Linked DNA regions of Homo sapiens: region 2 is linked to region 1. Evidence: fine-mapped expression QTL. Tissue or cell type: whole blood. Region 1 holds a variant in brackets; the other region holds the start of a gene. All regions are shown on one strand. Distances are between the middles of the regions.

What was found. PIP is the estimated chance that this variant, and not a neighbour inherited with it, causes the effect.
Region 2: PLXNA2 starts here. The variant in region 1 is fine-mapped to the expression of PLXNA2 in whole blood (TOPMed, PIP above 0.99).

Annotation. Positions count from the first base shown.
Region 1 is chr1:208,444,845-208,447,528 of GRCh38, forward strand. No RefSeq gene overlaps it. Among named protein-coding and RNA genes, the nearest start is that of LINC01735, 170 kb to the right of the region's middle. RefSeq lists enhancers at 348-1,547, 707-1,207. The variant C/T (reference allele first, on the strand shown) is at 1,653.
Region 2 is chr1:208,243,016-208,245,699 of GRCh38, forward strand. It overlaps PLXNA2 (plexin A2), which reads right to left and starts at 1,369. Exons shown (of 32, transcript NM_025179.4): 1 at 628-1,369. RefSeq lists enhancers at 1-408, 409-908 and a silencer at 1,427-1,486.

The DNA of each region.
Region 1 (2,684 bases):
CTGGTTCCCTCTCATTGGGTAGGCTCTGTCAGAGGGAAGGTCTAGGGCTGAAGGATGTTGTTCAGATTCTTTTGTCCCACAGCATAGCAGGACAATCCACAGACAAAACCCCTCAGACATGGAGTTAAAGAAGGAAGGGCTTTATTTAGCCGGGAGCTTCGGCAAGACTCAGGACTCCAAAAACCGAGCTTCCCAAGTGAGCAATTCTTGTCCCTTTTAAGGACTTATAACTCTAAGGGGGTCTGCGTGAGAGGGTCGTGATCGATTGAGCAAGCAGGGGGTACATGACTGGGGGCTGCATGCACTGGTAATTAGAATGGAACAGAACAGGACAGGGATTTTCACAATGCTTTTCCATACAATGTCTGTAATCTATAGATAACATAACCAATTAGGTCAGGCGTCAATCTTTAACTACCAGGTCCAGGGCATGGCGCTGGGCTGTCTGCCTGTGGATTTCATTTCTGCCTTTTAGTTTTTACTTCTTTCTTTGGAGGCAGAAATTGGGCATAACACAATATGAGGGGTGGTCTCCTCCCTTAACAGGGTGTTCCCTTGATTTAGTACTCTCCCCCTTTTCCTGTGGATGTGGCTTCCTGTGAGCTGAACTGAAGTGATTGTTGTCTCTCTTCTGGGTCTAGCCACCCAGCAAGTCTACCCAGTTCCAGGCTGGTACCAGAGGTTGTCTGCACGGAGTCCTGTGATATGAACCGTCTGTGGGTCTCTCAGCCTTGGATACCAGCACCTGTTCTGGTGGAGGTGGCAGAGGGTGCATTGGACTCTGTGCAAAAAATAATGCTCCATTTTTGTGCTGGTCGGCCTCCTGACAGGAGGTGTCACTTTCCAGAAAGCATTAGCTGTAGCAGTGTGGAGAGGGACTGGCAATGGGTGGGGCCCTAGAACTCCCAAGATTATATGCCCTTTGTCTTCCACTACCTGGGTGAGTAGGGAAGGACCATCAGGTGGGGGCGAGGCTAGGTGTGTCTGAGTTCAGACTCTCCTTGGGCTGGTTTTGCTGCAGCTGCTGTGGCAGATAGGGTAAGATTCCCAGGTCACTGGAGTTGTGTACCTAGGAGGATTATGGCTGTCTCTGCTGAGTCATGCAGGTTGTCAGGGAAGGGCAGTCAGGGAAGTGGCAGTCACAGGCCTCACCCAGCTCCCACACAAACCAAAGGGCTGATCTTACCTCCCACGGTGCCCCACCAAAACAGCCCTGAGTCTGTTTCCAGGCAGAGGGCTAGACGGGCTTGAAAACTTGCCGACGCTTTCCGCCTCCCAGAGTATATTTGAGGTGTCTCCCGGGTCCTGCAGTAGCAGTGTGCTTCCTTCAGAGGGTCTGTGGGTCCTCTCAGGATTGCTGGTTTGTTCTTGCTGTTGATCCGGAGCTAAAATTCACAGTGCAAGCCCCCGCATGCTGCTCTGTTCCCAGCTGCAATCTAGTCCTCCCTCCCGTCTGCCATGATCCTGAAATCCCCCTCTCTGTGGTTCTTGCTGCCCTTTGCATTACTTCTTTCCTTCTTGATTGCACAGGCTGAAAGTCTAGGAACTTGGACTTCTGCCTGTCTCTGGAAAGGGGCCCCAGGCTGTCCAGAGTAACAAATTATCTGCTTATCACAGTTGACACTGCTACCATTCTACTTTATTATTTCCGG[C/T]TATTATTTTCCCTGATTTTTGGGAAGCTGACTGCAGCTTTTTATCTAGATGCTCACACTCCATCACCGCTCTACCACCTCCTCTGTCTACTTGCCTCCCACCTTTCTGCGTGGGCTGCCCTGCCTTCTCCACACAGCGAGTCTTTATCCACTTCATCTGGTTTATCTGCTGAGAGTCCTCAAGGTTCAGTTGTTTCTCCATTGTTATTTGCAATTTATCTGATTCTAAACCTGACATTATATCTCACTGTGATATACAGTTATCTGGCTATTGTTTGTCCAATGCAAGTATATTATTTTGCATCCACTTTTTTTCTTGCTTTTCGAAGTTGGGAACCATGTCTGTAACATCACAAAATCTGATGTCTGCAAATCATCCCCGTAACTGCAGAGATAAGACAGGACTCATTACCATTCATGTTATCCTCACTTGGGGAGAACTCAGGTCAAATTTCTTTACCCTTGGATAACACTTTTCTTTAATTTTAAACTTGTCCTTTCTCTCTCTCTCTCTCTCTCTTTTTTTTTTTTTGTATCTTTTTTGAATTCAAGACATTCATTCACCTCCCACAGCTTGCTTCTCTGATTGGAAGACCATTTCTACTGGTGGCAGGCATAGTGTAAATATTTCATTTTTGAGGTTTGTTCAGCAAGGACTATTCGGACTGAAGATGAAATGCCAGCTAAAGTCCCTGTGTGTGAAGAACATCATGTTCAGCCTTTTTCTCCCAAGGCAAATTATTTGCTTAACTAAGGGTTTCTTCCTTGATTACAGTCCTTATTATTGAGATCTTGTCTGAATTTCCCAGGTGTGTTTTGAATTTCACAATCTCACTCTATACTCCACAGAGCTAGTCTCAGAAAATAGATTTGCATGTGCCCCCAGCTCTGACGGAGACAGAGCCCTTCCCTAGACAAAAAGCCCTGGGAATAAAGGGCTAAACAGTAACACAGTATCTGGGCATGCTAATTATTATTATTATTATTATTGACTGAGGACATTGGCTGGCTGTTAATAGACACATCTATTAG
Region 2 (2,684 bases), 200 kb before region 1:
GGGCGATACACCGCAAAGGGAGCCCCGGGAGATGAAACACTTAGACCCATTCAGTGCCTAGGAATCTCTCCCTGAGCCTTATGGAACCCGCGCAAATGATGTTTTCCCATTCCCCTGATCTCCAGTCCCCGATCGGAAGGGAGAGCCGGCGGCCACCAGGGACCCCGGCACTGGAGTGAACGCCCCCAAATCGATCGCTGGCCAGTGTGGCTTTGGGCTGTCTCGCTGGTGCCACCGAGGCCCTCTTTGGGCTCCAGCTCTCAGGACAGCCTTGCCGCCCCGAGCTCCCCAAAGCCGCAGAGCGCCGGCAGGTGCGCGGTGGAGGCGCGCCGCGGAGCGCTGCTGCCGCCCTCAGCCCGCATTCGGGAAGCCGGCGGGCTGCCGGCCGGGAAGCCCTCGGCGGGAGGCAGCGGCTCCAGTGAGCCTGCGATCGCGCGCACGCCGCGCTCCAGCCCGCGAAAGTGGCCGAGCCCACGCGGGGACTCGCCCGCCGCGGCCAAGCCGGGTCTTCTGGGGCCGGGACCCCAAAGAGGCGGGCGCGGGAGAAGCCGCCACGGGTGTGCGCGCCTGTGGGGAGAGGGCGGAGGGCGCTGCCGACTCCGAGCGCCCGGCCCAGCCGCCGCTTACCCAGCTCGGCGACGTCGGTCTGTCCTTCCGTCCCCGCTCGGTCTACCTCGGCCGCCGCCGGCTGCTGAGGGCGGCGCGAGGCCCCTCTCCCTGCCCGCAGCTCGGAATCAGGGAGACGACCAAATCCACATGGAGTCCAAATTCATTAAAATCCACGTCAAGCCACCAGACACTTATCTGTATTCCTGAAGTCGCTCCTCGGTCTCCGCTCCGCGCGCCCCTCAGTCCTCCGTCGCCCCGCAGCAGCCCGGCTGGGCGCTGTCGCCGGCTCTCAGGGGGCACCCGGAGGCGCCGAGGGGGCGTGTGGGGGCGGCCGGCGGTGTCTCTCCTGAGGAAGAAGCAGAGCCCCGGCTGTCTTCAGATTTTTCCAGCGCGACTTTCCGGGCTCCTCTGACATCAGCAATCCCGGCGCTTCCTTCCCTTCTTGCTCTCCGGTTCGTTCACAGTCCCATTTCCTCCGGGAGCCTGGCTTTCCAGATCTATTTCGAGGTTTGCTCCGCTGGCTGCGGCGCTCGCACGCCCTACCGCTCCCAAGCTCTCGGGGTCTCTCTCCGGATCGCTCGCCCTCTCGGCTGAAAAATTCCCAGCAACTGCCCTCCGCCGCCCTCCCGCTCCAGTCTGGCGCGGATGCCGCTCCTCCCGGCAGCTCTGGCTCCCGCGGTGGCGGCGGCGGCGGCGGCGGCGGCGGCGGCGGAGGAGCCCTGAGCGCCGGCCTCCCTATTTCACCATGCAGCTCATTATCATAGAGGCCGCGCGCGTTAACCCCCTCCCCGCCGGCCGCGTCCGCCCGGGCTGGGGCCGCGCCCGCTGCTGGCACCGCCCGCCACCGCCAGCACCCTGCCCCCTCCCCCGCCCGCGCGGACTTCCTCCTCCGCAAGCTGTCAACAAAGGAGAAGCAGGTTTGGCATCCGGAGGCCGCTCGGCTGCCTGTCCTGCGCCCAGCTCAGCCCGGACCCATCGGCCACCTTAAGTAGCCAAGGGGGCAAGGAAAATGCTGCCAGGGCCCGGGAATTCGAGTCGGGCCTTGCGAGCCCAGCTGGCTTGGCCCCCGGGGGAATAGAAGGTCTAGCGTTGGGGTTAGGGGGGAGCTCAGAACACAGGAAGAGTGGGTGAGGGCAGTAGGGACAGGGAATCCCCCCCATTCGCATCACCTGTCACCGCACACATCCTGCACACCTCCCTCTTCATCTGTAATTTGAGTGAGGGGTGAGTGGGGAGGAACGGGGCTTGTCTGGTAGGGTTGAGACTAGAGTCTTGGAATTTGTGGGAGCAAATTTCCTCTTCTTGTAAATTAAAAAAAGAAAAAGGCCAACAAGCTGTCAAATAAGGCTTGAAGTTGTTGTTATTATTATTATTGCAATGAGAAGATGAACCTTGCTCTGAATTGAATCTCAAACTTCCAGCCCTGATAGGGATCCTGGGCATCTGGTAAGTCCCGACTTGCATGGGGGCATTGGGGACGGGAGAAGAGCTTTCTATATCCAATTCAGAGAATCTTTCTGGCAGGGTAATCAGAGGGGTGGCAATAAGATAACTTATTTTAATAACCTAAGGTGAGAGGTTTCGGGATTCTGGATGACAATGTCTCGGTGCCCTCAAGGCCACTGATTCCTCGCCACACAGTCTCAGTAACTCCGCAGCCTCTAGACACGGCTTTCCGGAAGCGGCCTGCAAGCTGGACCCCAGCGAGTTCGCAGGATCTGCGTAGTCCCTGCTCGCGATTAGAGCGCACACGAGTTTACTCCTGTCCAAGTATTCTGATAAGCTTCCTCTACTGCCCTCTCGTGGCCACAGTCCTCAGTGGTATAAATCTAAAAAACAACAAAAATCACTGCGAATACCTAAAAGCAATTGCACCAAATTCTTAGAGCAGTAGCGGCAGAAGAAACGAAGGGAGGGAAGGATGAAGAAAGGGAGCCGGAGAAAAGAGAGAGAGAGAGGAAGAAGAAAAGGAAATCTAGACTAACCAGTCATCTCGAACAATCGCACATTCAACACAGGACTGGGGGATCTAGGCTTTACTCCAACATCTGCAGAAATCAGCGAATTCTTCAAAA